Homo sapiens: one gene and its partners. The protein of the gene in region 2 interacts with the protein of the main gene of each other region in a biochemical or structural test. Each region holds a gene or a part of one and is shown on either strand. Other genes may lie near its edges.

Region 1 (4,490 bases), on a different chromosome or scaffold from region 2:
CCCTAGTGTGGATCTACACCCAGATACTGGCTGGGAGGCAGGACAGGTGCTGGGAGTGAAGAGGAAATAACAGTGGAAGCAAAGCAGAGGCATCCGTTTACTAGTGTCAACTGCTGTTTTGGGGGCTCCTGTCTGCAATGTGAGGTCAAGTGATGCAATAATGCTTGGGAATAGCTTTGAATGCTCTTTAAAGAGAGTTGTATAAGGTTTTATAGGTATGGAATGTATTTGAATTACATTTTAGGTTTGATGTCAGCATTGCTCAATGCTTTTCATATCTTTTCCTTTTGTGTTAAAACTGTACAGAGTTATTGTACAGAGTTCCCAATCCTTAGACTCATTTACGTATTCATTTATCCATCCAACCATGCACTGACATTTTTTTTTTCATTTTAGCCTCTTACAATGTACTAGGTTCCAAGAGGGATATGAGAGGAAAACATATTCTTTACCATCCAAAGCTGACTTTATAGTTGGAGAAAACAGACTAAGAAACAGCTAATAATTCAATAAGGGAGTGAGTAAGGGTCCAAAAGAGTGATATAGAAAATAAATGCTATTGGAACGGAAGTAAAATAGGAAATTAAATAATAGAGCTGTTGGGAAGGGGGCAGCCAAAACGTTTAAAAGGGGGAGAAGATTCTTGGTTACCAGGGGAGAGCAGCTCCACATAGGTCTTGTGTATTACATGTTCCAATAGAAAGAACTCTGAGAGGGGTTAATAAAACGTCCTTCGGATTTATTTGAGATTTGTTGAAGCAATAACTCCTACCATTTAAAAGGCCCCAATGAAGCTTTGAAGTTAACACCTCATTGCTGAGAAGTACAATGGCTTTTCATTCTGTACCTTTATCCCCTCACATAAAGTGGGCAGAGGACTCTGAATATGCCAGCATATGTTCAGTCTGGATTCAAGGCCCCCCTTCCTTTTTTCTGCCCTGACCTGCCTGCTCTGCTGGGATGTGTGAATGTACTGCACAGAGGCCAAGAGGACATGGGGCATGGGGTTTCCCAGCTGACAGCCCCAATGGCAAGTACCCGGTCTGTTATTTTGGTCAAATTCCAATTTCTTTTTTGTTCTAGAGATCTCCTTACCCATTTTCCGTCAACCAACCATATTTATTGGGGGCCTAGTCAATGAGAAAATGTATGTTAAAGTAAAGGCCTTCAAATGTCAAACAGGTGTGACTGTTATGAAGTTCTGAAGGGGAGGCAAAGAAGTATCAGACACTTCTCTACCCTCCACAGCTCACTCTCAGTGGGAGCCAAACGTGACTCAGGATAAGCAGCATTCGAAAACAGTGTGTGAAAGATGCCACAGGGAGGATTCCCGGCCCTGAAAATTGAAGATCAGACATTCTGTTTGATTCCCTCTTATCTTGGTTTCACACACTTTCCACTTGAAGACCCAAGAAACCTAGTTGGGTAAAGAGAGGCTATTTCCTTTTCCCTCATAGACCTTGGGAGGAGGGGCAAGATGTTTTAATTTTTATTAGTGATTTTATTTTTATTTGTGCTCCATGGAAATGTTATTAATATATTCTTTCCTGTGTATATTAGGTTGTGAAAAATTGCTGCTGCCGCTGCTGTTACTATTTTAATGAGCAAAGTTCTTGCAGCTCTTTTTATGACAGCTACATTTGTTTGCAAGCTGTTTGGCTTTGGCTAGGGGTGTAGACAGCAGTTTTGGAATGAAATGCATCTGTAGGAAGCCAGCAGGTCCTAAGGGGATCATACCCTTGACCTTGGTCTCATTCACATGTTGCCCTGAGCAACCAAACTAATTGCCCATTATTTAGCAGATTAGATCAACAAGGCCTAAAAGAGTTATTAATAATATCCCAAAGATAGGAACTCTCACTGGGGCAACACTTAGGCAGTAGAAGAGTCAATTTAAGTATTTTGAGATATTTTGAGTATTTTTCATTTAGGCAAATCAACTTCTAAGATAGCAGGTGTGTATGTGTATGTAGATAGACCTGTGATCATGTTAACCAAATTCCTTAAGGGTAACTAAGATAGCATATCCTTTGTTAGAAGTCAAAGAGGTCTGTCTAGCTGTGGCTGTGATTTTGTGATATTGAGTAAATGGCTTCTTTTCTCTAGATACCAGCTTTCCTATTTGTCAAACAGGGGTTAGATTTGCATTACCTAAGCAGCAAATTAAGAGTTTAGACTTTTCCATCAGAGTTCCTCAACCAGCATAAAGGAGTATTTGAGTACCTTGGGGGATCTCGGATCATAGCCTAAAGCTTTACAAGAGCAAAATTTTGTTGAAGTCATTTTTTATTTATCTAAAAATTCACATAAATGTTGCACTCTCCTCCACATCATATTCATGTTTATTGTATAGTGTATTATTTTCCCCAAGTTGAGTAAAACCAACCCATCAGGAAAATGCACGATGATTATCTTGGGCTTCTAGTAACTCCTGGCAGTCCCCCAGGAAGATGTAGGCACATACCATTTTGAAACTCTTCGCACCAAGTGATCTAGTGTTGGCTATAGCACTCTCAACTTCTCCACTGTTCAGCAAAGCCTAATAGCCGAATGTACTTTGTATATGGAGGAGATAACATGGATAACAGCAAAAAGAATGGACTTGTGCAAGTTGTTCCTTGCTATTTTAAAAAGGTCCCCAAACCACCTTTGGCTTTATCTATCCAGTAAGTTGTAGTCATGAGTTTTAAACTGGCTCTTGGGAGCTCTGAGCGTACCAGGCATATCACTGGGGGAGTGGCTGAGCTTTGGTTTTATATTTAGAAAATCAGATTGGGGTTGCACTGCTTTTAGAACTCTAGGCCTTCATAATATGGACTCTTAATAAGTCAAACTTATATTTTGCTTACTTTAGTTGATGTAACATCCAGTTAGTTCTATGTTGGTAAGTTTGTGGCTACAATGTGGTTGGTGACACAAGGATGACTAGTTTAGGATACAATGTCAAAATAGCCCAAGCAGGGGTTCTAAAAGAAAACCTGAGTTCATGTACAAAACAGACATTGGAAGCACAGACACAACCTTATTCAATGAAAGAAAATTTAAGGATATTATTTGCTTCTGTAACTATTATTATTTAAAAATTTGAAGATTAGGAAGGAGTTTATAGTCTTTCTTTTAAGTTTAGGATTTCTCCCACCACCTTATCATGATTATTTTATAAGGGATCTCGTATGGTACTAGAGCAAATTGTTACTATTTCTTCCTAGAGAACATGTTGCAAAATGTTTCAGGAACATTTCTTGGTAACATAAAGTGACTAAGCAAATTCCAGAAAATTCTATTGTTTGTAAGTTGAAAAATCATCCTATAATCCCTTTCAAGTCAACATTAGCGCTCTTTATCAAGAAAGAGTCCATTCTCAAGACATTAAGACTCAAATGCCTAGAAGTGATTGGTTAAAATACTGTAAACCTAGCGGAAATTTGTTGCATTGTTTTCTATAAACCATAACCAGAGCTCATTAATTGAAAAACAAATGTCATTTTGTGTTAGCTAGCATCTATAAACCAAAAAGGTACAGTGATCCTGGCATGTGATGGGCAATAAAAACATCAGCAAAATGTATCAGGTAAAATTGAGAGGAAGGAGTGGGGAGGGGTAAATTCAAAACCATATTGGAGTTTACTGCCAGGGCCCCACATAAAGAGTTTTAATGAGGCTTCTGCATCAAAATAAGTGAAACCATACGGAATTGTAATTATTACTGCAGTGTATTTTAAGTACAGATACACCTAAGAAGCAGTTTTTACATTAACATGTCTATCTGTGTGAACTCCATACTTCTGCAGGGGGCACACGTTGGCGTTTTAAGTGCGACTTCTTTCTGATACACGCTGTTCACATTATTCTGGTTCTTCTTATATGATCTAAATATTGAACTTAATGCATACAGAAGTGCCCTGCCCATCGCTGTTAGTTCTGCCAGCTCAAGGTCACCTGGATGCCCTGCAATGCAGAGGCTGCCTGAGGAACGTCTGTGGCCTCCATTTGGCCTCTGTATTGTACGAGGCAGGGCACAAGCACTGGGCGGGGGAAATGTTATGGAGCATCTGCTCCCATTTCTGATTCTGTCATAATCGCTGTTTCCACATTTTTAAATTTAAGCTTGTCAGAATTTCGTTTTTGGGAGGAATAGGTAGAGGCTAGTTGAGGATGGAAGAATTTATAAAAAGCAGAGAGTGACTGCCTGGGCTGTCAGTTTTGGTTCTTCATCTTGAAAGTGTTTGCTTCTGGCCTTAGAAGCTGCTCACTAGCTTTTACCCTCTGCTTATGGGCCTGCAGACTCTGGGAAATACTAATGAGGGATGGGAACCTCTCTGTCTACCCCTCCCCTAAGGCTGTTGCTTCTCCTTCTCTCTTGGAATTCATAGTCATAGAACATTAGAGCTGGAAGGGAACTTAGAGCTCATCCCCCTCATTTTACAGATGATGACACTGCCACCTCTGACTTCTGCCTCTGGCCTTCCACTCTCAGTAAGAAGAGCCAG
Region 2 (4,490 bases):
CACCACCCAGCACGAGTAGAGGGATATTGAAGCTCTTGACATATTCAACGCATTCCCTGTTAAAAGGAACCAGAGGAAGATGTGGAGGAGGTTATCAAAAGACAAGGTAAATACCTTTAGGTATTGCCTGAAAGGAGCACAAGAAAACTATAAATGTTCTAAATCTTTATCTTGATAGTGAAATTCATTATGTTATACCCTTAAGATTTGGGTATACTTTATATGCTGTGTCTCAATAAAAATTTTAAAATAAAGCACAGTCCCCCCTCTGTTCTGCTCAACACCCTCCCTGGCACCCTGCCTGCTAATCAACTATTCTCATCAACCCAAGTTCTGTCAATTCTAGCCTTGAAAATATAACTCACGCCCGGCGCGGTGCTCACGCCTTTGTAGTAGTCCCAGCTACTCAGGAGGCTGAGGCAGGAGAAATGCTTGAACCCAGGAGGCAGAGCTTGCACTGAGCCAAGATCGTGCCACTGCACTCCAGCCTGGGTGACAGAGCAAGACTCCATCTCAAAAAAGAAAAAAAAAAACATATATATGTGTGTGTGTGTGTGTATATATATATATATACACACACACACACACACACCTCTCAGATCATCTACTTCTCTCCATTGCCACCCCCTCCACCTTAGTCTGGGCACCTAACCAACACCATGGCTTCCTAACTGGTCTTTCTACTTCCATCTCCATCCCCCCTACCCAAACCTTTCTCTATTCAGCAGTCAGAATTGTCACTTTCAAACACAAATTGGATCATGTCACTTTCCTGCTTAAAATCCTTCAATGGTTTCCCATCATCTTTGGAATATAATTCAAACTCCTTACCAGGGTTTAAAGGCTCTGCACAATCTCACCATGGCCAGCTTCTCGGACCTCACCTCAACAGACTGAAGTCCAGTGGCACAATCATAGTTCACTGTAACCTCAAACTCCTAGGCTCAAGTGATCCTCCTGCCTCAGCTTCCTGAGTAGCTAGGACTATAGGCATGCACCATCATGCCCAGCTGATTTTGTTTTTTATTTTCTGTAGAGATGGCTCTCACTATGTTGCCCAGGCTGGCCTCAAACTCCTAGCCTCAGGCGATTCTCCCACCTTGGCCTCTGGAAGTGTTGGGATTATAGGTGTGTGCCACTGGGCCCAGCCCTCAGAGCCTTTTGTGGGCCTTTGTCCATGCTTGGGTCAGGCTTCTCTCTGCTCCTCTTATGACTCACTCCTTCTTAGTCTCCAGGTCTCAACTCAAATTTTACTTCCTCAGAAAAACTTTCCGAAACCATGCTATCTCAAGTAGGTCCCCCATTGTATCCTGTGTCTCAGCTTTCTTTTTTTCTTTCACAGAATTTATAAGAATCTATTTATTTCATTTGATTATTTATTTTTTGTCTGTTTCCTAAACTGTAAACTCCATGGGAGACTCCTTATTCCATCCCCATGATGTGGTATGATGCCTGGAACATAACAGGTGCTTAATAAAAATATATCGTGAATGAATGACCATCTAGGGAACCCTGTTCAAGATGACATTTCTAGTTCAAGTACAATTTGTAGCTATTTTTGATTTCCAAGAAGAGGTGAGGCCCATTCCCCAACTACCCCCACCCACGTACTGAAGTCCAAGGCCACTTAAAAACCTTGGGGAGAAGAAGGAGAGCAAGTCTCACCCATGCCCTCGGATGCTGAGGTTAAAGCAGCCCAATCGATCACAGCCCAGAGAGTCAGCTCCACACTGCAAAAAGCAAAACCCCAGGAAAGTGCAGTGATCAGAACTGATCAGAACATCACAGATACCCCTTCCACCACCAACCTAAAGAACCTCCTCTTCCCTTGCTCTCTTTCCCCAAGCCCAGGCAGAACACTCCTGAGGAGGAACTGACAGTATTACCTGGAGCACAATGCACGTGGGTTGGTAGAAGTCCACTACCTGGTTGATAACCGGCTGGAAAAGGTGCTTGTAACCTGGGAGAGGGCCAAAGATGGGCACCTGGCACCCCAAGGGGATGGGGAGACAGGGAACAAAAGGAAAAAGGGGGTTGAGCGAGCATGTAGCCCAGGAAAGGGGCCACCCAAAAGAATCAAATCACTGGTCTGAAACTTCTGGAAGGGATCCCAGACTGCTATGAGTGACTGATGAAAGCCAATGACTTTTCCCAGAAAAATGCACATACACATGATATGTTGCATACAATTTCCAGAGATTCATGGTCCCTCTGAAGGCCATTCATCCTTAAGGACAACTGGCCCAACAGCAGACAATACCAGGCAGAAGAGGTTATTTCAAGGAGAAAAAGAAGGGGCCTAGGGAACAGAGGGAAGACTTCGGTACTTACTCTGGTCATCAATGCCATCCCGCAGGGGCACGTTCAGACAGTAGTAGCGGCCACTCTCTGCCCCGACTTCATACATGTCACCTGTAGGGAAGTGGGTGGTGGTAGCCACACATGGGAAGCACCCACAACCCAGCTGTTTCAGCCCCAATCTGCACTCTGGGAGCCTCTCATTCCATCTATGTAGCTTCACCATAAACTCCCTAGAGCCACTAAATCTCTTGCAGCTTGCATTCATTGGGCAAATAGTTTTGGGGGATCCACTCTGAGCCAACTGTGTACTAGGCAGTAGGGATGCAGCAACGAATGGAACTAATGAAATTTACGATATCCCACCACGCTTATATTCTTAGGGAATAGCCATGAGGAGGAGGGAGGCAGTAAACAAAACAAAACAAAAAACCACAATAAACACAAATAGCAGTGAGTGTTCTGAGGGAAACAATGAGGCTGATGTAACAGAGGAATGGGGAAGGAGGTGATTATGATAACTGGAGTGGTAAGGAAAGGCTTCTCTGAGGAGGGGACACCTGAGATGAGACTAGAAGGCTGAGAAGGAGGCACTCATAGTAAAGAGCTGAAGGGTGCAAAGGGGAAAGTAATCCCTATTCCCATACCTGTGCCAGGGAAGAAGTAATTTCCGTATTTGTGGAAGGACACCGTCATGACCCGGTCAGTGAGGTAGAAAGCTTCTTGAACCCCGTCACCATGGTGGATGTCAATGTCAATGTAGAGCACCCGAGGGTGGTACCTAGAGGGAAGCCAAAGCCAGGGTCTGAGCTAGAAGTGAACCCCCCAACCCACTCCTCTCAAACACCGGGTCTCGAATTGTGAAGAGTCTGCTTCTGCCCTGGTCACCTGAAACTTAATGTCACCAGTTCCCTAAAGGCAACTGGGGGCTCCAGCCTAGAGGCTAGAGGCAGGGACAGGAGAGGGATATGCAGAGAAGGCTGAAATGTGAGCAGGCAGTAGGGAATCTGCAGCAGTGGAAGAGGCAGCCTGAATAAAGCATCAAGAACTTGGGAGAAGCTAATCAGGGAGGAGGGAGGTCAAGGTCAGGGTTGAGACTGAGAGACCTCCTCAGCCAAGAATCCCGTAACTGCCCCCATCTCCTCCTGGGCTACTTACTTGAGCAGCTCCAGGATGCCAATCACAATGTCGTTGACATAGCAGAAGCCAGAGGCCTATGGCAAGACAGTGGTCTCATAAAGAGAAGAGCAATTCCCCTCCCAGCTGCCCCCCACCATCATCCTAAACACCTACCCTAGGATGGCCACTGTCTTTCCCATCACCTCCTCACTCACCTCAAACTTCTTGGCATGGTGCAGACCACCAGCCCAGTTAATGGCAATATCACAGATCTGAAAGACAAACACCTAAGTCACAGTCCTTCCTGCCCACCCCTCAAGCTGGGAGCCCAGGATCAGGGTTAAATCCCGAGTCCAGGGATCCAGAGGAAAGGAAGAACAGGACTCGGGACTATGTCACCTTGTTGTTCAGCTGGGTTGCTCCTTGCAGAGATGCGCCTGTGTAACGCGAGCAGAACTCAAAGAGCCCGGGAAACACTGGGCTGCAGGGAAGAGGAACAAGTTGGAACCCTCCTGCCTCTGTCTGGGCCCTTCCCATATCTCCCTCCCCATCCTAGATTCCTCCAATCTCCATTTTTCAAGAACCTTCTCTCCCTCTCCTACACACGTGGGCTATCTGCAAATTTATTCAACAAATATTTTGGACCAAACCATGTACCAAGCCCTGTGCAAGGCACTGGATGGGAAGTAAAGAAGCACTTAACTGTCAGGGAGTTTGTATCCTAGCTGCGGAAAGAAGCAAGCAGCTTCCAGGTACTCAAGTACAATGTAAAAAGGAAATCAGTTGAAAGAAAACATGAGCTCTGTTTTTCTTAGTCTTCTCAGTGTAACAAATTTTAGCATAATGTTCAATAATATTTTTCAGTCACATATTTTAAAGAAAGAACTGTATACCTACATATGTGAAACAGTGATGAGATAACCCACGAAAAGCCTGTAGCACAGTATACAGTATCCGCTCAGCCTTTAATAAATGTCAGCTATAATTATTACCATTGTTATTCTTTATAAAAAGTAAAGGCTTGAAGCCAGACACAAAAGCCTACTTACTGTATGACTCCATTTATGTAACAT
Region 3 (4,490 bases), on a different chromosome or scaffold from region 2:
ATATTGTTGGGACTATTGAAATACAAGATCAATCTCACATTCGTATAGCATTTTCAGTTTATAAAACATTTCAAGTTCATTAGTTCATTTTAACCTTACTTAAGTTCCCAAGACAGATAAGGCAGGCATATCATACCCATTTTATAAATTAGAACCCTGAGGCCTATTGGGTAACTTTCTCAAAGTCCTACTGCTCACTAGTTGCAATATGGAAGTACACTCTAGGTCTCCAGATCCCTACCTCCCCTCCCCTGCTCTTCCCACTATGCTATTTTTCACTCAGTATTGATCTGGTTATCAAACATGAACTATGTATATCTAAAATTAATATTAAATTGTGAAGAATTGTTCTAATGAGTAAAGTACATCAGCTTTGTTACATTATTTTGACTTTTCAAGACACCCCACAAACCAAATGCATAATCATAATGGCTCCTTGCTGTTCCAGACAGTTGAGAATGCCAAATAGGTAAGTGATCTTATTTTGCAGTTTTCTTTGGTTTTTAAAAAATTTCTCTAAAACTTCTATTATATAGACAGGGAAGTTTAAAAATTCTTATACAGATATATTGTCTTTATGAAATGTAACTCAGTCTATTATGTAAATATCATTGTAGTAGTAGTAGTACTTAGTAATTACGTTTTTAATGGTTTATCTTAATTTTTGAAATTCCTTTCATAAAAGTTTTCAGTGTACACTACATTGGAACTAATGTTTAAAAACAGTTGCTAGCTGGGCACAGTGGCTCACAACTGTCATCCCAGCACTTTGGGAGGCTGAGGCAGGTGGATCACCTGAGGTCGGGAGTTTGAGACCAGCCTGATCAACCTGGAGAAACACTGTCTCTACTAAAAATACAAAATTAGCTGGGTGTGGTGGTGCATGCCTGTAATCCCAGCTACTCGGGAGGCTGAGGCACGAGATTTGCTTGAACCAGCGAGGCGGCAGTTGCGGTGAGCCAAGATCCGAGATCACGCCATTGCACTCCAGCCTGGGCAACAAGAGCAAAACTCCGTCTCAAAAATAAATTGCTAAAGTGACTTGATGTGTTGTTACACTTTGGCTTTGACAAGTACAAGAGAACAGTTGTTCAGAAAACTGGATATCCCATCCTCTGTAGCTGATAGTAAACTGTAACTTATAAGTGATTGTCATTTTTACTACTGTATTCATGCATCTGTCAGTCCAACAACTTTTTTTTTTTTTTTTTTTTTTGAAACCGAGTTTCACTCTTCTCGCCCAGGCTGGAGTGCAATGGCACGATCTCGGCTCACTGCAGCCTCCACCTCCAGGGTTCAAGCAATTCTCCTGCCTCAACCTCCCAAAGTAGCTGGGATTACAGGCACGTGCCACCACGCCCAGCTAATTTTTGCATTTTTAGTAGACCGGGTTTCACCATGTTGGCCAGGCTGGTCTGAAACTCTTGGCCTCAGGTGATCCACCCGCTTCAGCCTCCCAAAGTGCTGAGATTACAGTGATGAGCCACTGCGCCCTGCCTCAACAACCATTTATTGAGGAAGTACTACACATTAGGTCATGAGCTAAGTATTAGTATCACTAAAATGCCCAAGACACTGTGATTGCCCTCGTGGAGCTCAGAGTCAAAAGTGAGTAAGTGACACAGTAAATAAAGTAATGTAAAGTACTTCTGAGTTCATCTAAAGCCCCAATGTCTTTTCCAAGCTTAGGGAAAAGACCTCTCCCAGCACTCTAGGTCAAGGTGGGAATGTTAGGCAGGGAAAAAAGCTATGTGTTCTGGCTACGACAGTGGTTCTTTCCTATTGCTATTGATATCTGGCTTAGTCTAGACATAGTAGAGAAGGAATCATTTCCCTTTTCCACACACTTATTAGATAAAACTTAATTTCTTCTAGCTATAGCCTCAAACTTAAAATATGTGAAATCCCCTTACAAATTATATACAGAAAGTATAACTTAAAAATTGGGTCATGTCCATATGTTTGTTTGAACTAGCTCCATAGAAGTAACAATTCATGCTTAGATTCCTGTTGTACAGTTTGAAAACCTATGTAGCCTGCAATATATATATAGCTAATGTTCTACAAATACGTAATGAAAAATAAAAGCAACTTTAATACAAGTTAACTATAATAAAATTTTAAAAGAGGGGCCTGTAAATATCTATATTGAATGCTGAAGATGGAAGGCTCAATTTGGAATGTGCAATTGGAAATAACCCTTAAATTGGAAGGGCTTTTCTTCAGATAAGCTTAAAAAAGAGCTCTAAGAAATGGAAGCATCTAAGTAGTGAGGGTAGTTAACTAGTCTGATTTAAACAACTGTAAGAACTTTAAACAAGTTCTGTAAACACATTTACAGTACTGAGCTGGATTTTATTTTAAAGGTGTCAGAAGACCCTCCTCCATTTAGATAGGTAATTTTAGAATTTATAATTATTTTAGAAAAAATAGGAGCGGGCATGGTGGCTCACACCTGTAATCCCAGCTCTTTCGGAGGCTGAGGCAGGCGGATCACCTGAAGTCGGGAGTTTGAGACCAGCCTGACCAACGTGGAGAAACCCTGTCTCTATGAAAAATACCAAAAAAATCAGCCGGGCGTGGTGGTGCATGCCTGTAATCCCAGCTACTCGGGAGGCTGAGGCAGGAGAATCTCTTGCACCCAGGAGGCAGAGGTTGCCGTGAGCTGAGATGGTGCCATGCCATTGCACTCCAGCCTGGGCGACAAAGCGAGACTCTGTCTCAAAAAAAAAAAAAAGAAAGAAAAAGAAAAAATATATGAGGTTAATTTAGAAAGTTTTTTGAGTTCTCAAGAATTTGCGTTAGGGCATATATATCAGAAAGTTTGCTATAAGTTTAAAAATCATGTACTATCACATACATTTATCTCAAAAATAATAAAAGAACTATAACTTGAATGTTACATATAAATACCTTTGACTCAAAGCGACAGATAACACGTTAGGGCTTCTTGGATGAGATTTTTCTGTCTGTTCTATGACTCCTTTTCCTGCTCTGTTTGGTGAGGCTGTCCGACTTTGAGTATCTCTATATGGTGATGATGTGGCACTAGTAGTTTCTTTATGTATGTGGGTAGGAGATGGAGATGCAATCAATATTTTAATGTCTTCCATACGGTCTTTTGTCACTGTTTTTAATTCATCAGTGGTGGCAGTGGTAGTGGTGGCATTAGCAGTAGGTTCTTGTATTTGAGTCTGCTGGAATACTGTAACTGTGCTTTGAGGACTTGCGCTTTCAGGGCTTGCGGAACTGCTTTCTAATGGTGACAACTGATCGAAGGAACGTAACTGGAAGTCATCATCCATTGGGATATAGGGAGCTAACATCTCCAAGTCTAAATCTGTGTCCTTTAAAACAGCAAATACATGAGTTTTTACAATGGCCACACCTTATAAATAAAAAACAAGTGAAACTCAAAGTCACTTCAGACTAAAAATTAATGAAATTTAATATAAAACAAATAAGTTCATATACCTGAGTAGAAAATGGGTTCTTTGCTTCTGTGTCTTCAGCAAAAAGTTTTTCTACCAATTCCAACTTGAATTCATTGACCATATCACTATCCACATAAAAACAATATTCACTGGGACTATTAGGCTGTAAAAAGAAATATGTTTACTATTTCCTGAAGAAGCTTCCATATACTTTGCTAGTTGTCAGAATTTTCAAACTAGATCTCAGAAAAACCAGAAAACACACAACCAAGTCCATCGTGTTTATCAAATTTTATTTAACTAGGCCGGGCTCAGTGGCTCACGCCTGTAATCCCAGCACTTTGGGAAGCCAAGGTGGAGGGATAATGAGGTCAAGAGATCGAGACCATCCTGGCCAACATGGTGAAACCTCGTCTCTACTAAAAATACAAAAATTAGCTAGGCATGGTGGCAAACGCCTGTAATCCCAGCTACTCAGGAGGCTGAGGCAGGAGAATCACTTGAACCTGGGAGGCAGAGGTTGCAGTGAGCCAAGATCATGCCACTGCACTCCAGCCTGGCGACAGAGTGAGACTCCATGTCAAAAAAAAAAAAAAAAAAAAAAATTTGTGAAAATAGTGACATTTTGAAGCTTATACTGGTAACTAATTTTGCCAATATATATATTTCTGACTATGTAATATAACATCATTTACAAAATTGAGATGAAAAGAAACACCTTATTCTAAAGAATAAAACCTATTTGGTAATTCACATCCCACAATGGTACCTAATTGACCAATTAACTAGATGCTACATTCACTGGAATTTACCTTTGAACTGAGAAGGCACACTCCTGTGGTGACTGAGCTACCTAAAAATCTCACTGTTACTGTCGGGGGTGGGAGTAGAAACCTAAGTTATTTTACCTGCATATACCTGAACGAATGTACATTATTACTATTTTAAGAGTTCTGGGCAAGAAGTTTAACAAAAAACTATAGCTGTGTATTCTAAACAAGAAATTTTGCTTTCCTCATTCTAACGTTTTTGTTAGATTTACTTTTGTTAGATAAA
Region 4 (4,490 bases), on a different chromosome or scaffold from region 2:
AATATGAGGAAGTTGATCAACTGCCGCTGCCTTCCAAAAACAGATTAATCCACCTTGGTAGCTTTCCTTTCAGAGCAAGCTTTTGGCTCTGTCGACTTTCTCTATCAGCCTGAACTCAAAAGGACACAGGCCACATGCCATCTGAGCTTAAGAGTTATTTTGTGTGTTGATCTGAGAACTTCACATTTTAAAACAATGAATTCATGTTTCTACTGTTTGTTGCTGTCTGTGGATTTGCTGATATAAAGAGGAGAGTCCTAGCCTGGTCATTTAATGAATAATTCTAAGGAACCTGAACTTCTCCAGGGTGCCCTTCTACATCTGCAGTGGTGGTTCTCAGCTGGGGTGACTTTGCTTCCGTCACCCCACCCGCAGGATATCTGGCAATGTCTGGAGACATTCTGAGTTGTCACAAGAGGGGCGGGCGATGCTACTAACACCTAATGGGTAAAGCAGAGATGCTGCCACACATCCTACGATGAACGAGACAGCCCCCTCCACCCCAGCAAATCATGATCTGGCCCAAAATGTCAACAGTGTCAACAGTTGAGAAACTCTGATCTACAGATATAGGGAACCCTGCCTAATACACAAATCCTCCGTAGTTCCCAAGGGCGGCCTGTAGGTAAGAAAAATGCAGAGAGAGCCAGTGAACCACAGGACAGCCCTAAAGCCAGTTGGTGAAACTGTAAATCCATAATCCTAACAAAATAATGTACAGTCGTAACAAAGTGAGTTTTAGAGACAAAGCTTTACAATTTCTGGTAAAATTTCCACATGTGCAAAAAACAGAGTAGATAAATCAAGGTCCTACATCTACTTGTGTTAACAAACTAGTGAAGTGCATAATAGAGAATACCAGGTGAACTCAAGGCAGTACTGTTTCTAAAATTGTGGAACTAGTATGAAAGTAGATATGGAGAGGAGGAGTGGTAATGGTATTCCCTGACATTCGCTCAGCAGTTGCTACTGAGCCATGCATTCGCTTAAATACTAGGAAATTATCAATTTTTCAACTGTCGAAGGCCTATAAAAATGGCAATTTTCTATCATTCAACCTAAATACTATGTGTAATGTATTATTATATATTAATATTGTTAGGATATATATTATGTATAACATATTGTGTTAGTAGTAACATATTTGTGCATCCTTTACATTAGTGTCAAATTATCATCTGCTATATTAATATCACAGATTAATTTATATTATTGGTATATTAATATATTGATCAAATAGAGGGTCAGCAAACTTTTTTCTGTAAGGGGCCAGAGAATAAATATTTTAGGGCTGGGCACGGTGGTTCATGCCTGTAATCCCAGCACTTTGGGAGGCTGAGGCAGGTGGATCACTTGAGGTCAGGAATTCGAGACCTGCCTAGCCAACGTGGTGAAATCTCATCTCCACTAAAAATACAAAAATTGGCCAGGCCTGGTGGCGGGCGCCTGTAATCCCAGCTACTCGGGAGGCTGAGGCAGTAGAATTGCTTGAGCCCAGGAGGTGGTGGGTGCAGTGAGCCGAGATCACACCACTGCACTCCAGCCTTGGTGACAGAGCGAGACTTTGTCTCCAAAAAAAAAAAAAAGAATAAATATTTGCTCTGTGGCTCCTGCAGTCCCTATACTGACCACCTGACTTTACAGTAGTGGCTCTAAAGCAACCACAGGCAGTACATGAAAGAATGAGTGAGGATGTGTTCCGAAGTATGGATGGACACTGAAGTTTGAATTTCCTGTCATTTTAACAGGTCAGGAAGTATTCTTTTTTGGATTTTTTTTTCAACCATTTAAAAAATGTAAAATGCATTCTTACCTCCTGGGACATGCAAAAATGCCAGATTTGGCTGGCAGGCTGCAGTTTGCCAACCCTAGGATTATATCAACATTTTATATACGTTATACATATTATAGTATATACTATTGCACATTATATCTATACTATACATATTATGCTATACTACATCATTTCATATATCATGTCATATTACATTACATGATATTCTATATTACCGTATTATATTACTGTATATTATACCATCCTCCTGGGCAGTAGCAGCCTCCTGATCCCCGTCCTCCTGGGCATAGCATCCTGGGTGACCTCATCTTTTTGGGTGGCAGATTCTGGGTAGAAACCCTCTCCCTAGGCAGCAGCATCCTCAGTAGCCCCCATCCTCCCAGGTGGTAGCAATCCTGTGTGGTTCCAATCTTCCTGGGCGGTAAATTCTGATAGAAACCCATCTCCCTGGACAGTAGCATCCTGGGTGTCCCCCGTCCTCCTAGGCGGTAGCATCCTGGGTGGTCTCCATCCTCCCAGGTGGTGTCATCCTGGGTGGTCTCCGTCCTCTCAGGAGGTGGCATCCTGAGTGGTCCCCGACCTCCTGGGCATAGCATCATGGGTAGTCCCCATCCTCTTGGGAGGTGACATGCTGGGTGATCCTCGTCATCTCAGGAGGTGGCATCCTGGGTGGTCCCTGTCCCCCTGGGTATAGCATCCTGGGTAATCCTCGTCCTCTTGGGAGTAGCATCCCGGGTGGTCCCCGTCCTCCCCAGCAGTAGCATCCTGGGTGGCTTCCCATCCTCCTAGGCGGTATCATCCTGGGTAGCCCCCTGGGGCAGAGGGAAGAGCTGTGGCCTCCGCAACCTCCTACTCACTTCCGCTCCGTTCTCTTGCCCGCCCTGCAGCGGCACCCGACCTGACAGCGTTCAGCGACCCGCGCCAGTTCCCCGCGCTGCCCTCCATCTCCGACCCCCGCATGCACTATCCAGGCGCCTTCACCTACTCCCCGACGCCGGTCACCTCGGGCATCGGCATCGGCATGTCGGCCATGGGCTCGGCCACGCGCTACCACACCTACCTGCCGCCGCCCTACCCCGGCTCGTCGCAAGCGCAGGGAGGCCCGTTCCAAGCCAGCTCGCCCTCCTACCACCTGTACTACGGCGCCTCGGCCGGCTCCTACCAGTTCTCCATGGTGGGCGGCGAGCGCTCGCCGCCGCGCATCCTGCCGCCCTGCACCAACGCCTCCACCGGCTCCGCGCTGCTCAACCCCAGCCTCCCGAACCAGAGCGACGTGGTGGAGGCCGAGGGCAGCCACAGCAACTCCCCCACCAACATGGCGCCCTCCGCGCGCCTGGAGGAGGCCGTGTGGAGGCCCTACTGAGGCGCCAGGCCTGGCCCGGCTGGGCCCCGCGGGCCGCCGCCTTCGCCTCCGGGCGCGCGGGCCTCCTGTTCGCGACAAGCCCGCCGGGATCCCGGGCCCTGGGCCCGGCCACCGTCCTGGGGCCGAGGGCGCCCGACGGCCAGGATCTCGCTGTAGGTCAGGCCCGCGCAGCCTCCTGCGCCCAGAAGCCCACGCCGCCGCCGTCTGCTGGCGCCCCGGCCCTCGCGGAGGTGTCCGAGGCGACGCACCTCGAGGGTGTCCGCCGGCCCCAGCACCCAGGGGACGCGCTGGAAAGCAAACAGGAAGATTCCCGGAGGGAAACTGTGAATGCTTCTGATTTAGCAATGCTGTGAATAAAAAGAAAGATTTTATACCCTTGACTTAACTTTTTAACCAAGTTGTTTATTCCAAAGAGTGTGGAATTTTGGTTGGGGTGGGGGGAGAGGAGGGATGCAACTCGCCCTGTTTGGCATCTAATTCTTATTTTTAATTTTTCCGCACCTTATCAATTGCAAAATGCGTATTTGCATTTGGGTGGTTTTTATTTTTATATACGTTTATATAAATATATATAAATTGAGCTTGCTTCTTTCTTGCTTTGACCATGGAAAGAAATATGATTCCCTTTTCTTTAAGTTTTATTTAACTTTTCTTTTGGACTTTTGGGTAGTTGTTTTTTTTTGTTTTGTTTTGTTTTTTTGAGAAACAGCTACAGCTTTGGGTCATTTTTAACTACTGTATTCCCACAAGGAATCCCCAGATATTTATGTATCTTGATGTTCAGACATTTATGTGTTGATAATTTTTTAATTATTTAAATGTACTTATATTAAGAAAAATATCAAGTACTACATTTTCTTTTGTTCTTGATAGTAGCCAAAGTTAAATGTATCACATTGAAGAAGGCTAGAAAAAAAGAATGAGTAATGTGATCGCTTGGTTATCCAGAAGTATTGTTTACATTAAACTCCCTTTCATGTTAATCAAACAAGTGAGTAGCTCACGCAGCAACGTTTTTAATAGGATTTTTAGACACTGAGGGTCACTCCAAGGATCAGAAGTATGGAATTTTCTGCCAGGCTCAACAAGGGTCTCATATCTAACTTCCTCCTTAAAACAGAGAAGGTCAATCTAGTTCCAGAGGGTTGAGGCAGGTGCCAATAATTACATCTTTGGAGAGGATTTGATTTCTGCCCAGGGATTTGCTCACCCCAAGGTCATCTGATAATTTCACAGATGCTGTGTAACAGAACACAGCCAAAGTAAACTGTGTAGGGGAGCCACATTTACATAGGAACCAAATCAATGAATTTAGGGGTTACGATTATAGCA
Region 5 (5,102 bases), on a different chromosome or scaffold from region 2:
TTCAGGTCCTGCAGGTCACGCGGAGCGTGAGCACAGGAGGCTGGGACGGAGCCCTGCTGGACCCGACCCTCACCCTGCGGTCGCACCTACCCGGTGGATGATCCCGGCCGAGTGGATGTACTGCGGGAGGGGGATTGTGGTGAGCGCCGGGCCCGGCCCGCCCGCCCCCCTGCGAGAGGACCCGCGAAGCCCAGGGCGCCCCACCTTCAGCCCGCGCAGCAGCTGGTAAACCAGGAATTGAACGTGCTCGTCGCTCAGCGCCTGGCACTTGACGATGTTGTTCAGGTCGGCGCCCATCAGGGTGGTCACCAAGTACCTGGGGCGGGGTCAGGGGGTCAGGACAGGGCCCCACCGCCCCACCGCGAACGCGCTCCCCGCTGCCTCGCCCGCCCCGCCGCTCACACTTCGCTGAAGTCCTCGATGGACGTGGCCGGCGTGAAGACGTCCAGAAGCCCGATGACCTAGGTGGCGGGGGGCGTCAGGGCCGGGCGACGAACCCCCGGCTGTCGTTCAGCTCCCCCCGGGCCACGCCCCCAGTGCCAGGCCGCGCCCCCTGTGTCCCCGCCCCCATCGCCAGGGCTCGCCCGCCTATTGGCTGCGCCGCGGCCCCGCCCCCGCACGCGCCCTCCCCCCACGGCCCTCCCCCGGCTCACGTTCTCGTGCTTCAGGTGCTTGAGCAGCCGCAGCTCCCGGTACGTTCTGCGCGCGTGGATCAGCGACTGGAAGGGGCGCGACAGCTTCTTCACCGCCACCTTCTGGCGCAGCCGGGCGTCGTAGGCCGAACTGGAAGGCGGGCGAGTGAGGCGGCGCCGGGAGGGGTCCGAGGGCGGCCGCACGCGCGTGGACCCGGGCGGCGTCCCTCTCGCCGCTTCTCCGTGGGGATGGGGCCGTGGGGCTTTTCTGCCCCGGCCCCGCCGCCCCAGCTCGGCCTCCCACCCTCGGGCCTACCCACTCCGCGCTTGCTGGGAAGGAGCCCCTGGGGCTGGACCACCATGCGTGTGTTCACCCCACAAGGTCCTGGACCTTCTCTGTCCCCTGGCCCCACTGATTCCCACGCTCAACCAGGGGCCCCCATTCAAAGCAAGGCTGGGGGAGAGGTGCCCCATCCAGCGTGGAAAAACACAGCAGGAAAACAGTCACTGGCATTCACCTGCAGCAGACGGGCCTCCCTCTGCCCCATAGACCCCATGGGCCCAGGAGGCTCACAGAGGGGGATTCTAGAGCCACCTCAAAGCCCCTGGACCCCTGGTGCCTCCGAATGTTCAAAATACGGAGGGAAAGTTGGTCAGAGGTGTTTATTGCATCATTATTTGGAACAAAACCGGGACAGAAGGTGATGTACAGCTGAGGGCGTCAGCTGGACCCACAGAACAGCCCTTCGCCCAGCCCCACTTCCCAGAGGTCCAGACCCTCTACCCTGCACCAGCTTCCTGAGCCCACCCTCCCTTTGCAGGTGACCCTCATCCCACCCTCCCATGTCCCACTGCCCTCAGCCCTGCTAAAGGAAAGGCCTTTGCACAGCCTGTTCCCTCTGGCTGATACTTGCTTCTTCTCTCCCTCCCACTTCTGTCTCTTGGGATCCTGTCTCAGAGCAAGTGGAGGCTGAGGCCACCCCCCATGCCCACACAAGGGGAGCAGGAGCGGCTCCTGCTGGGTCTGGGATGCTCATGGGCGCAGGTCGAGGTGCCTGGGGCAGCCATGCTCCCAGCCTATGACCAGGGAAAGGTGCTCCTGAGGTGGTGAGGGGAGTGGCCCTGCACGTGGGGCAGCAAGTTCTTTTGGCCAATTGCATCTGTGCGGTCAGGTGACAGGGAATTGGCACCTGGCCCGCAGCCTTGGCAGTGGAACTAAGAAAATGGGCCAGGGGTGCAAGGGGGGAGACCAGGCCTCACTCAGAGAACCGGACACCTCTCAGCAACTCCCAGACGGCGAGTCCAGCCATGACCCACCCTAGTCCCCTATGGCCACTCCCACACCGTCCCAGACCCTCTTCCTGCCCTTCAGGTCTCAAAGAGGAAGACAGATCTGTGCTGGCATGATGGCTAGAATGACCCACCTACAGCTTCTGATGGAAGGCTAGGGACCACACCAGAAGACAGCCTGCCCTGGGACCCCCGGCCCCTGATGCCGGCTCCTGAGCTCCAAATCTGGTGGGCCTAGAGGTCCCACTTCCAACCTGCAAGTGCCTGGGGCAGAGCTCTGCCCTGGCTGCCTCTGCCTTTGCGCCCCACCAGGACCCCCCAGTGGGCAGCAGCTAAGCGGCATTGGCCATGGTGAGGACTCAGCTGCACCTCTCAAAGCCTGTACCCATGATCAGCCTCCCAGTCAACATGGAGGCTGAAACTTAGGACTCCCGGTAACTACCTCACCCTAAGCCCCTCCAGCCCTGGCTACCCGGGTCTAACAGAGACCTTGGCCCAGTTGACCCCCCTCCCCCACCCAGACTCTGTCGTCTTCCTGGGCCCCAGGCCAGGTCCTCTGGCCCCAGGGCCTAAGTGGGGTTTGTGGTCTGAGGGGGAGTCTGAGGCCATCCCAGGGGGAGAGATCTTGGCTTCCGGGAGCGGGGCTTCCCTTTTCAGACAATAGCCCCCAGCCCGGGCGGGGGAGGGTCATCCGCTAGACCCCGGGGGGCTGCCTGACCCGACTCAGTGAATCTCAGGTGGGTGCTCAGACGTTTAGGGGCCCGGACATCAGGGTGGCTCGGGGCTCGGTCGCGTGAGACCCACCCTCACGCCAGCTGTGACCTCCCAGGCCTCAGGCCTGGTGGGGAGCAGTCCGAATCGGGAGAGGCCGGAGGACCCCCCTCCCTCCCGGTAACGGCGTCTGCTTGGAAAGTTTCTTTACGCCGCCACCCCCGCCCCCCCATTCATTCCTCAGATCCGCTTGGCGCCCGGGGGCGGAGGCAGGGCGAGGCCCCTCCCCACGCCGAGAACCTCGCGCGGGCGAGGAGGGGACGCGCTCTCCGGCCCGGCCCGGCCCCCACCCAGCACCCCTTCTGCCCCGCCCCTACCAGACGGAGCCGTAGGCGCCGGAGCCCACCGGGCGCAGCCCCTGCAGCCGCTGCGGCACCTCCCACACGGTCTTGTTCAGCTCCTGCCGGTAGAAGCCGGCGCGAGGGCCCGACATGTCCGGAGCAGCCGCCGCTCCGCCCGGGCCCAGCCCCGCGCCCCGCGCCCGCGCCCGAGCCGAGCCCGAGCCGAGCGGAGCGGAGGGCGGCGGAGGCGGCGGCGGCGGCGGGCGGGGCGGGGCTCCGGGGCGGGGCCGGGAGGCCCGGGCGGATTTCCCGGGCTGGGTGGCCGGGGCGTGGGGGGGTTCCCGGAGACAAATGCGCTGCTTCCTGCGCCTCGGAGGCGGTGGCAGAGCGGAAACCAGCCCTCCCCTTCCCGGGGGGGGCGCCGAGGGCGGACACCTCCCTCCGGCTCTCACCTCTTGGGGGCCGCGCGCTTCTCCAGACTTGCGCCCGCGTCTGGGCTCGGCCCGGGCTTCCCTACCCCGGCGGCGCCCTCCCCAACGAGGGAGAACCGTCAAAAGCGAAGAAGCCAGGGGTAAACCATGGGAAGTATTTTTCAAGACAGAAATATGAATAGCACCTTCTAAAGACTCGGCACTGGATAGGAAAATAAGCCGAAAGGCGTTGGGACAGGGCCGGCCTGGCTTTCTTGCGCAGGACCTGCAGGCCTTGGTCCGCGGTGCGCCCCGGGAACCTTCCAGGCCTCCTGCCCCGGCTCGCCCTGACCTCCCCTCTGAGAGAGGCGCGACCGCTGGACTGTCAGGACCAGGGACAGCGGCGTCACCCCGGGGCCTTCCTACCCACAAGCAGCGGCCCCAAACGGATCCTTTTTGCTGCCCAGAACCTTTCCTCCTCCTTAGCGGCCACCTCTTCTAGGAAGCCCACCCTGACTATCCCAGGTCCGAGGAGCCGCCTTTGGGTGCAGGGTCCTTGAAGTCAGCCCCGCGGGCGGGCAGGCGCGGGGGGCTGCCTTGGCGGTGACGGGGGCAGCGCCCCACTCGGCGTCTCTGCCGCGCTCGGGGCCGCACAGCTACTTTTATTCCCACTTGAAAGCGACCGGGGCTCGGCGGAGCATTGCTCCCTGGAACACCGGCCACCGACCTCCGCCCTGGTAGAGCCGTGGTGGGAGGCTTCGCGGCTGGGCGACCCCCTCCAGCGAAGTGAGAAATCAGGATCCCAGTGGCCCAAAACACTCCTTTTTTAAAACACTAAAATCCGAGTTTTAATGTCAAATCTGATTTTTATATATCGGCAACCAAATTAAAACAGCCAGCACGGTGCTGGCCACCGGACCCATGCGGACCGCGGCGAAGGAACGGGTCTCAGTCCCAGCCGCTCCGGCCCCTTTTGCATGACCAAGCCCCGTGCCTCAGTTTCCCCATTGGAAGCCGGCATCCGGCTGGGGGCCTGGCGCGGGCCCGGGGATGGCCCCTCTCCTCGCTCGGGCTGGGTTGGGGCGAGGACACGGGCAGCCTCCCCGAGGGCCCCCGCCCGGGAGCGCCTTTCACTGGGCCCGGCCGAGGCGGGCCGAGGTTTTGTGCAGAGTTAATGGAGCTTCAGCTAAAGGAGGAGGAGGCCGGAGCGCAGCCCCGGAGCTGTGGGAACCGCGGCCGCGGCCGCCGGGGGAGGGGAGCGGCCTTTGTCTGCGCCGCGGCCGGGCGGGGCGGGAGTCGGGTTCCCATGGCGACCGGCCCCGCCCCTGCGCCTCCCCGTGGACTGGGCGGCTCCGTTCTCGCCCCTAGGGTGGGGGACATGGAGGTGGGGAGGTGTCAGGCTTCCCCCAGGCGTCCGCCCGCAATCCTCGCGGCCTCGCTGCAGGCCCCGGCCGCTCAGCAGGTCAGGCGGGCGTGTGGGGTGGGGGTGGGGGCGGGGGGCGGTGGAAACGGGCCCCTCTCATCACTGAGCTGACCTGCCCCGGGAACCCCCTGCCTGCCCAGGCATTAGAGGTCCCGCCCATGTGCCTACTGGGGACAGTGTGGGGTCGTGGCACTGCAAGGGAGTGATCACTGAGGAGTTTCGGGTGGCGTCAGGGCCTGGAGGCCATCTTCCAGGAGAGGCACCTTCAGAGCTCGGCGGGGGCAAGGGAAGCCCC
Region 6 (3,623 bases), on a different chromosome or scaffold from region 2:
AGTGACATCCAAGAGCAGGAGCAGTTCCACAGCTCCCAGCCTTCTGTGAGAGGTGCAGATGGCCATTTGCACCCTTGTCACCCAGTTTGTGCTCAAGGTGTGGCCAGGCCAGTTACTTCCCTGGCTTTCCCCATCTGGGATCGAGTTGTGTTCAGCATCCTGCTGCCTCTTTCCCCCTCTGAGCTGTGGGCAGCCATAAGTGATAGCTCCATTCCTTCTCCCAGAGTCCAGATGCCTGTCCAGCCTCCAAGCAAAGACACAGAAGAGATGGAAGCAGAGGGTGATTCTGCTGCTGAGATGAATGGGGAGGAGGAAGAGAGTGAGGAGGAGCGGAGCGGCAGCCAGACAGAGTCAGAAGAGGAGAGCTCCGGTGAGCCCCTACACACACAGACACACACACACACACACAGAGCCCCTACACACACACATGCACACACACAGCCCCTACACACAAGCATGCACGCACATGCACATACAGCGCCTACACACAAGCACATACACAGACCCTGCACACAAGCGCACACACGCACACACAGCCCCTACACACAAGCACGCACACACAGCCCCTACACACAAGCACGTATGCACACACACAGCCCCTTCACACAAGTACACGTGCACACAGCCCCTTCACACAAGCACGCACGCATATGCACACACAGCCCCTACACACAAGCACACACGCACACACACAGCCCCTTCACACAAGCATGTACGCGCACACACACACAGGCCCTACACACAGGCATGCATGCACACACACACATGCAGGACGCACATGCACACATGCGGGTACCCACCACTCCTCCCCAGAGCTAGCCCTTACTGGCCTCTTGTCCCAGAGATGGATGATGAGGACTATGAGCGACGCCGCAGCGAGTGTGTCAGTGAGATGCTGGACCTAGAGAAGCAGTTCTCGGAGCTAAAGGAGAAGTGAGCGTGGGGACACCTTGGGCTGGGTCTGCGAGGATCTGGGATGAGGAGGTGGTGGGCCTGGTACTGGGCAGGCGTGGTTGGTGCCCAGGAAGTGCGCGCCTAACACCGGGCTTGCTGTGGAATGGGTGCTGGGTATGTGTTTGCCCAAGAGCGATGGGTGAGCAAATGGGTGCACGGCTGCCTTTTTACCACGCAGGTTGTTCAGGGAACGACTGAGTCAGCTGCGGTTGCGGCTGGAGGAAGTGGGGGCTGAGAGAGCCCCTGAATACACGGAGCCCCTTGGGGGGCTGCAGCGGAGCCTCAAGATTCGCATTCAGGTGGCAGGTCTGTGGGTGGTTCTGTACCCTCTTCCCCTCCCAGAACCCGTGGCACCCTGTCCCCTTCCTCTCTCGTTCCTGCCCGGCCTTGCCCTTTGCTCTCAGCCCTCCTATGTGGGCACCGGGCTCCCCAGCCAAGCAGGGACCCTCCTCCCTTTCTCTGCAGGGATCTACAAGGGCTTCTGTCTGGATGTGATCAGGAATAAGTACGAATGTGAGCTGCAGGGAGCCAAACAGCACCTGGAGGTGGGCCTGATTGGGCACACTGGGGGTGAGGCAGGGCACAAAGCCTGAAGTGGCCTCACCCCATCCGTCCTGCTGAGCTATTGCCCCCTCTTCCAGAGTGAGAAGCTGCTGCTCTATGACACGCTGCAGGGGGAGCTGCAGGAGCGGATCCAGAGGCTGGAGGAGGACCGCCAGAGCCTGGACCTCAGCTCTGGTAAGCGCGAGAGCCTGGGCACCCCGGAACTGGGCCCCGCTCAGTCCACGCCCACCCCTCTTTGGGCTTCAGATGTCCTGAAGTCAAGGGGACAGCCAGAGGACCTGCCTGTTGGGGTCAGTGTGAGGGCTGAAGGAGACCAGGCCTGGAAAGGGCCTGGCACATAATGGGGGCTCAAGCAGAGTGGGTCTCCCTGCCTCTTCTGCCCCTGCTCTTTCCAAAACAGGTATCAGTGTGACATGCAGTCACATGCAATAGCTCTAGTCCCCTCCATGTTCATAGTACCTGTGTTCACGTGGAGTCCTGGGGTGGCAGGAATTGTCGTCATCCCACTCTCCACTAAACAGATGAGGCTCACAGAAGTGCAGTGACCTCTTCCCAGGGTTGTGCAGCTGTGCAGGCAGGACCTGAACAGCCCTAAGGGGCTTCTACCCCAAGCCCAGGGTGGTGATGGGACAGGGGAGATGAGGCCAGGCCGGCCCATGGTGGAGGCAGAGGCTACAGAAAAGGGAGTATCCTGTGGGCCAGCACCCCAATTCTAACTCTGGGTCTCGGGGCAGAATGGTGGGATGACAAACTGCACGCCAGAGGCAGCTCCAGGTCTTGGGACTCCCTGCCGCCCAGCAAGAGGAAGAAGGCACCTCTGGTTTCTGGTATCCTTTCACCCAAGGTGGCCTAAAAGTGGGCAGGATGTAAGGGTCAACTCCAGACCCAGGGGAGGGGGTTGGAGGGGACATGGAGGACAGTCACACTAGATGCACTCGTGGTTGCTTGGTGTCATGTGAATATGTCCAGGCAAATCCAGCTGTCAGCAGTTTCTTACGGGGTCCTGGGTCTCTCTGGGCTATGTGAACCCTAGGAAAACAGAAACGGGCTGGGCTCCGTGGCTCACATCTACAGTCCCAGCACTTTGGGAGGCCAAGGCGGGTAGATTGCTCGGGCCCAGGAGTTCTTTTCGAGACCAGCTTGGGCAACATGGTGAAACCCATCTCTAGAAAAAATAACAAAAATTAGCCAGGCGTGGTGGTGTGCACCTATAGTCCCAGCTACTCTGAAGGCTGAGGTAAGAGGATTGCTTGAGCCTGAGAGATCAAGGCTGCAGTGAGCCGTGATGGTGCCACTGCACTTGAGCCTGAGTGAGGTTTGGCCTTTGAGGCCTTTCCATCTCCCGGGGTTGTCCGAGCGGGTCCCCAGCTTTCCCTGGGGAGCCTTTGCTCATATCCCACCCTCCTCTTGGAAGTCCTGCCTGTCCCGACTGTCCAGGGCTCATCTCAAACGTTACCTCCTCTGTGAGGCCTCTTCTGGTCTTACCCTGGTGCCTATGGCTTCACTTTCCTGTGTGCTTCTGTGCCCTACCATGGGGTACCCACATCCCAGAGGGCACTGGCTGCCTCCACCCCTTCCTAGGCAGGGCTAGCTTAAGCTTAGTCCAGGGCCTGCTGTGCTTTCATCTGTCCTGGCAGAGCTGAGTCCTCCTGCACCCCTGAGGGTATTCCTGCAGCAGCCAGTCTTAGTCATTATGGCAACCTGGTGCTGGAGAGCAGGCCCAGGCAGGGAGGGAGGAATCTGGAAGGCCATGACTTGAGTGAATGGAAGGTGAAGGCATGGAGACATCAAGTAGGGAGCACTGGGGGAGGGAGAGTTGTCTCTGAAGGGATAAGCCCTGCGTCTGTCTTTGGATCAGGGAAGGGGCCAGGTTAGGGCCAGTGCTGCAGAGTGAGATGGGATGGGCCTCAGCCAGCTGACCTAAGACGAGGTGAGGGTGAGCAAGGGACAGGGAACAACATTTGGTGTCCTCCATAGACTTGGTTCCAGGACGACCCCTGGAACCAGGGGGTTAAGAGGTAGGAGGTGGAACCTGACCTCGGACCCAGGTCCTCAGCTCCCACTCCATGCTGTCCGCTGTACCCCCACTCCTGAATGTCAGGTGG
Region 7 (4,221 bases), on a different chromosome or scaffold from region 2:
TAAAGTTATGTTCGTATTTCTTCTCTTAACAAGATTATGAGTCAGATGTTGACTATATCTGCAGAACATTTGCCAAGTATTTTCAGACACCTGTTTTGCTAAAATCACAGAGTGACAGCCTCTTCGTGTTGCCTGTGGCACAGAAGCATATTGTGTGCCGCATATCTGAACCTGGGGCTAAAACACTCCCAGTTCTAATGCAAAAAGTCTCCTACTTTAGGGTGGACATGAATCACCGGGAGGTCTTGTTAAAGTGCAGATATGGGTTATTTAGGTCTACAGTAGGCCGACACTATTTTTGACAGCCTTGTGGTCACCCTGGGGTGGGGGGCACAGGGACCACGCTGTGAGCTGCAGGCCCTAGAGTTAGCCACCAGGGAGCAGCACCACTGGTACTCAGCCTGCAGAGGCCCTGCTTGTGATCAGCAATTTTTCACAAGCACATTGACAAACAAGAATGCATCTCTTCCATTCCAGTGTGGAAAACAGGCCCGGATTCGCAGCAGTGGAACTGCGGCTGCGCAATTACTACTATGACGTGGTGAACTAACCGCTCCCGCACCTGTCGGTGGCTGCCTTTGATCACAGGAGCAATCACAGGAAAATGTATCCAGAGGAATTGATTGTCAGCCACCTCCCTCTGCCAGTCGGGAGAGCCAGGCTTGGATGGAACATGCCCACAACTTGTCACCCAAAGCCTGTCCCAGGACTCACCCTCCACAAAGCAAAGGCAGTCCCGGGAGAAAAGACGGATGGCAGGATCCAAGGGGCTAGCTGGATTTGTTTGTTTTCTTGTCTGTGTGATTTTCATACAGGTTATTTTTACGATCTGTTTCCAAATCCCTTTCATGTCTTTCCACTTCTCTGGGTCCCGGGGTGCATTTGTTACTCATCGGGCCCAGGGACATTGCAGAGTGGCCTAGAGCACTCTCACCCCAAGCGGCCTTTTCCAAATGCCCAAGGATGCCTTAGCATGTGACTCCTGAAGGGAAGGCAAAGGCAGAGGAATTTGGCTGCTTCTACGGCCATGAGACTGATCCCTGGCCACTGAAAAGCTTTCCTGACAATAAAAATGTTTTGAGGCTTTAAAAAGAAAATCAAGTTTGACCAGTGCAGTTTCTAAGCATGTAGCCAGTTAAGGAAAGAAAGAAAGAAAAAAAAAAAAGGCCTGGATACTGCTTTTGCTGTCTCTGTTATGAGATGGAAGACTTACATGTTTGTGATAAAAGGGGACCATGAGAATGAATTGGCTTGGCTTACTTTCCCCCTGAAATCCTCTCTCCTGCAGACTGTCTTGAAGACCTGGTGACTGGTAAATAAAGCCCTGCATGGAGGCTGCACAGCAGGGGCAAGAGGCCCATCCCCCAGCATCTCACTGAGGACAGCTTCAGGCTGCCTTCCTCTGAACGTGGTCCACACCTTCCTCTCCTCCACAGAGAGGGTGCCGCCAGAATCCCCTGTCGCTTTCTGTGTCTGCAATGGGGGGCAGCACAGGGATCAAAGCCATCTAAAGAGTTTCCAAAGAAAGTATTAATTCAGAACAAGCCAAAGACCCTGAGCCTCACCACAAACAGGCCTTTTGGAGTGTGAATTTGAGTTGAAGATACAAGATCGGAGAATGATTTTCTGGTCTTAACTAATCCTCATCTTCATGTTTGATCTTTAAGAAGTCATCACCCATTGATTTCAGTTTTGCTGTACCTCTTGAAAGTTAAAGAGACATCTCAGCACTTTAGGAGGCCGAGGCGGGTGGATCACTTGAGGTAAGGAGTTTGAGACTAGCCTGGCCAATATGGTAAAACCCCATCTCTACTAAAAATACAAAAATTAGCCGGGCATGGTGGCATGTGTCTGTAGTCCCAGCTACTCGGGAGGCTGAGGCAGGAGAATCGCTTGAACCCAGGAAACGGAGGTCGCAGTGAGCCAAGATCATGCCACTGCACTCCAGCTTGGGCATCACAGCGAGACTCTGTCAAAACAAACAAACAAAAAAACAACTTAAAGAGGTAATTTAGCCATCATTCTTATGCCAGCAGATATAAATAAACTTGGACCCATCTGGTCTTCAGCTAAACCTGAGACATTTTAAAGTGCATGGACAGCCATGGACAGCAGGCCCTCCTCTAACAGGGGATGCAAGGCATGGAGAAAGACAATCAGTACCCAAGCTCAGCCACAGAAGACAGGAGTCACTCATATAACTTGTGTTTAGAAGTTTTTGGTAGCCACGCACACTTTCTGAAATCACACTATCTGGTGGTTTAATCATATTTTTAAAGACAGAATCCCTGAGTGCTGAGCAGATTCTCAAAACACATTTAGAATCCCTGAAATTAGAAAGATCAATGACAAAATATCTGTCAGCCAGGCCACAAACAGGTGTAAAATTATGAAAGGAGTGGTTGGATGTGCCAAGTTTGGTAAAGTGGTGACTGCATCTGAGAAAGAGGCTGTGAGGCTGAACTCTTGGTGGCTTCCTTCTGTAACTTCCAGAGGGAGTCTTCAACACAGGCCCCGTGCTCGTAGGAATACGGTAGCACCTATGTAGGAAGTGCGTGGAGTTTTCTGTCTTCTTTCTGTGTGATTTTTGGCCTTTTTATCAGCACTTCTCCCCTCCCAGGAGCCTGGGGATGCCAAACATCCAGAATGTGATGGGACAAGATGGGGGCAGGGGCCTCACCTCCCTGCAGAGGTCCGGCCAGGTCTCCTTGTCCCTGGACAATCTCCTGAGCCTCTCTGCTTGGTGGAGCAGGCACCTGTGTGCAGAATTCCCACTGTGGCCAGCACGAGGAAGTCTTTTCTAGTGAAAATGTGTCTTGTGGTCAGGAATAATTATCCTTTCCCCTGTAGCCACCAAGGAGGGCAAATAGAGAAAGGTAACCTAATTGAAGGATTGGTCATGTGAAAAGGGCTACATTTGGGAAGCTGGGAAAGGCCTCCAGGCTTCTAGAGCAGCTAGCTTGGGCTGGATTCTCATACCCAGGCTGCCCCTTGGATTGTTCTACCCAAGCTTTTCCCTGGGGTCTGGGCTCACTCCATAAGGTAAGGTGCCTTTTACCTTATGGTCCTTCTTTAGCAGGTAACAAAGGAGCATCAGGGGCAGGCTGCCCTGGTGGCATCACACTGGCTAGTGAGGCCGTGAATATCTTGTCCCCCAGCAGGGCCGACAGTTTCTATCACAGAAAACAGTGTGTTCAGTGGTGAAAATCGTTGCATGCATGTTTTCATCTGAGCGTGTCCTTCTCCCATACTCCCTATCAGCCAGCCCTGCCTGTAGCTGCTGTATGGTGATTGCACTTGGACATCAGTCCAATGACTGCAAGTCGGCCTGGATTTTCACTTGCAGAGGCTACAGCTGCATTGTCAGGTCTCCCAGCCCTGCAGAGAGCTCCCTCCACTGGTTAGCAGTGTGTTGTGTTTTCCATTCATTTCAGAAGAGCTACATTGTGTCACTGGACATTTTTAAAAACTGTGATTTTTAATAAAAATTTAAAATTTGCTTTGTGATGATTTTCATGGAAGTTATTAGGATGTGGTAAGTCACACTGTCAAATAGTGTCAAGCAGCATTGTCAAAGGGGTAGCTAAATGTTTTCTAAAACATTAAGTCCCTGCCATGTCCCAAAAAAGTGAATGTGTTGGCCGGGTGCAGTGGCTCATGCCTGTAATCCCAGCAGTTTGGGAGCCCAAGGCAGGAGGATCTCTTGAGCCCAGAGTTTGAGACCAGCCTGGACAACATAGTAAGACTTTAGCTCTGCAGAAATCAAAACATTAGCCGGGTGTGGTGGTATGCACCTGTAGTCCCAGCTACTTGGGAGGCTGGGGCAGGAAGATTGCTTGAGCCTGGGAGGTCGAGGCTGAAATGAGCTGTGATGGCACCACTGCACTCCCAGCTGGGTGACAGAGCAAGATCCTATCTCAAAAAAAAAAGTGGATGTGCACAGGTCAAAGTTGACTGTGAGATTCCACCACACAGAACGGCGGGGAGGCCCATCAGGGAGGGCCCTGTCCTGCCCTGCCTCTATCTTTTATTCATGAGCAGAGCATCTACCCAGCCAGGGCCTGACAGCCCATGGCCTGCCTAATAAAAGACAGACTGAGGAGACCCAGAAATCCCCCATCAGGCCAAAGCAGGGCTGTGGGTTTTGAGCTATCCCTTTCTCTATGAAGACAGCCTAAAAGGAACTGCGGTAGGCAAAGAAAGGATTCCAGAGCCCCAATT

The links.
Region 1: the proteins of HDAC3 (region 2) and RUNX2 form a complex in vitro, tested with the Homo sapiens proteins (one study listed by BioGRID).
Region 3: the proteins of HDAC3 (region 2) and HIF1A form a complex in vitro, tested with the Homo sapiens proteins (2 studies listed by BioGRID).
Region 4: the proteins of HDAC3 (region 2) and RUNX1 form a complex in vitro, tested with the Homo sapiens proteins (one study listed by BioGRID).
Region 5: the proteins of HDAC3 (region 2) and MAPK11 form a complex in vitro, tested with the Homo sapiens proteins (one study listed by BioGRID).
Region 6: the proteins of HDAC3 (region 2) and BRMS1 form a complex in vitro, tested with the Homo sapiens proteins (one study listed by BioGRID).
Region 7: the proteins of HDAC3 (region 2) and SYK form a complex in vitro, tested with the Homo sapiens proteins (one study listed by BioGRID).

Annotation. Positions count from the first base shown.
Region 1 is NC_000006.12:45,540,789-45,545,278, forward strand, and holds part of RUNX2 (runt-related transcription factor 2), read left to right. Parts: intron 1-4,428; coding exon 4,429-4,490. UniProt on the Homo sapiens protein: Transcription factor involved in osteoblastic differentiation and skeletal morphogenesis. Essential for the maturation of osteoblasts and both intramembranous and endochondral ossification.
Region 2 is NC_000005.10:141,626,228-141,630,717, forward strand, and holds part of HDAC3 (histone deacetylase 3), read right to left. Parts: intron 3,899-4,490; coding exon 3,817-3,898; intron 3,690-3,816; coding exon 3,633-3,689; intron 3,513-3,632; coding exon 3,457-3,512; intron 3,080-3,456; coding exon 2,946-3,079; intron 2,413-2,945; coding exon 2,332-2,412; intron 1,986-2,331; exon of another isoform or gene 1,961-1,985; coding exon 1,887-1,960; intron 1,731-1,886; coding exon 1,666-1,730; intron 57-1,665; coding exon 1-56. UniProt on the Homo sapiens protein: Histone deacetylase that catalyzes the deacetylation of lysine residues on the N-terminal part of the core histones (H2A, H2B, H3 and H4), and some other non-histone substrates.
Region 3 is NC_000014.9:61,739,612-61,744,101, reverse strand, and holds part of HIF1A (hypoxia-inducible factor 1-alpha), read right to left. Parts: intron 3,598-4,490; coding exon 3,475-3,597; intron 3,348-3,474; coding exon 2,914-3,347; intron 1-2,913.
Region 4 is NC_000021.9:34,790,803-34,795,292, reverse strand, and holds part of RUNX1 (runt-related transcription factor 1), read left to right. Parts: intron 1-2,682; coding exon 2,683-3,158; 3' UTR 3,159-4,490.
Region 5 is NC_000022.11:50,267,167-50,272,268, forward strand, and holds the start of MAPK11 (mitogen-activated protein kinase 11), read right to left. Parts: upstream 3,215-5,102; 5' UTR 3,127-3,214; coding exon 3,011-3,126; intron 784-3,010; coding exon 654-783; intron 462-653; coding exon 403-461; intron 317-402; coding exon 205-316; intron 121-204; coding exon 91-120; intron 9-90; coding exon 1-8. UniProt on the Homo sapiens protein: Serine/threonine kinase which acts as an essential component of the MAP kinase signal transduction pathway.
Region 6 is NC_000011.10:66,338,843-66,342,465, reverse strand, and holds part of BRMS1 (breast cancer metastasis-suppressor 1), read left to right. Parts: intron 1-224; 5' UTR 225-231; coding exon 232-370; intron 371-842; coding exon 843-933; intron 934-1,132; coding exon 1,133-1,260; intron 1,261-1,419; coding exon 1,420-1,499; intron 1,500-1,595; coding exon 1,596-1,692; intron 1,693-2,252; coding exon 2,253-2,345; intron 2,346-3,623. UniProt on the Homo sapiens protein: Transcriptional repressor. Down-regulates transcription activation by NF-kappa-B by promoting the deacetylation of RELA at 'Lys-310'. Promotes HDAC1 binding to promoter regions.
Region 7 is NC_000009.12:90,895,051-90,899,271, forward strand, and holds the end of SYK (tyrosine-protein kinase SYK), read left to right. Parts: intron 1-477; coding exon 478-550; 3' UTR 551-3,499; downstream 3,500-4,221. UniProt on the Homo sapiens protein: Non-receptor tyrosine kinase which mediates signal transduction downstream of a variety of transmembrane receptors including classical immunoreceptors like the B-cell receptor (BCR).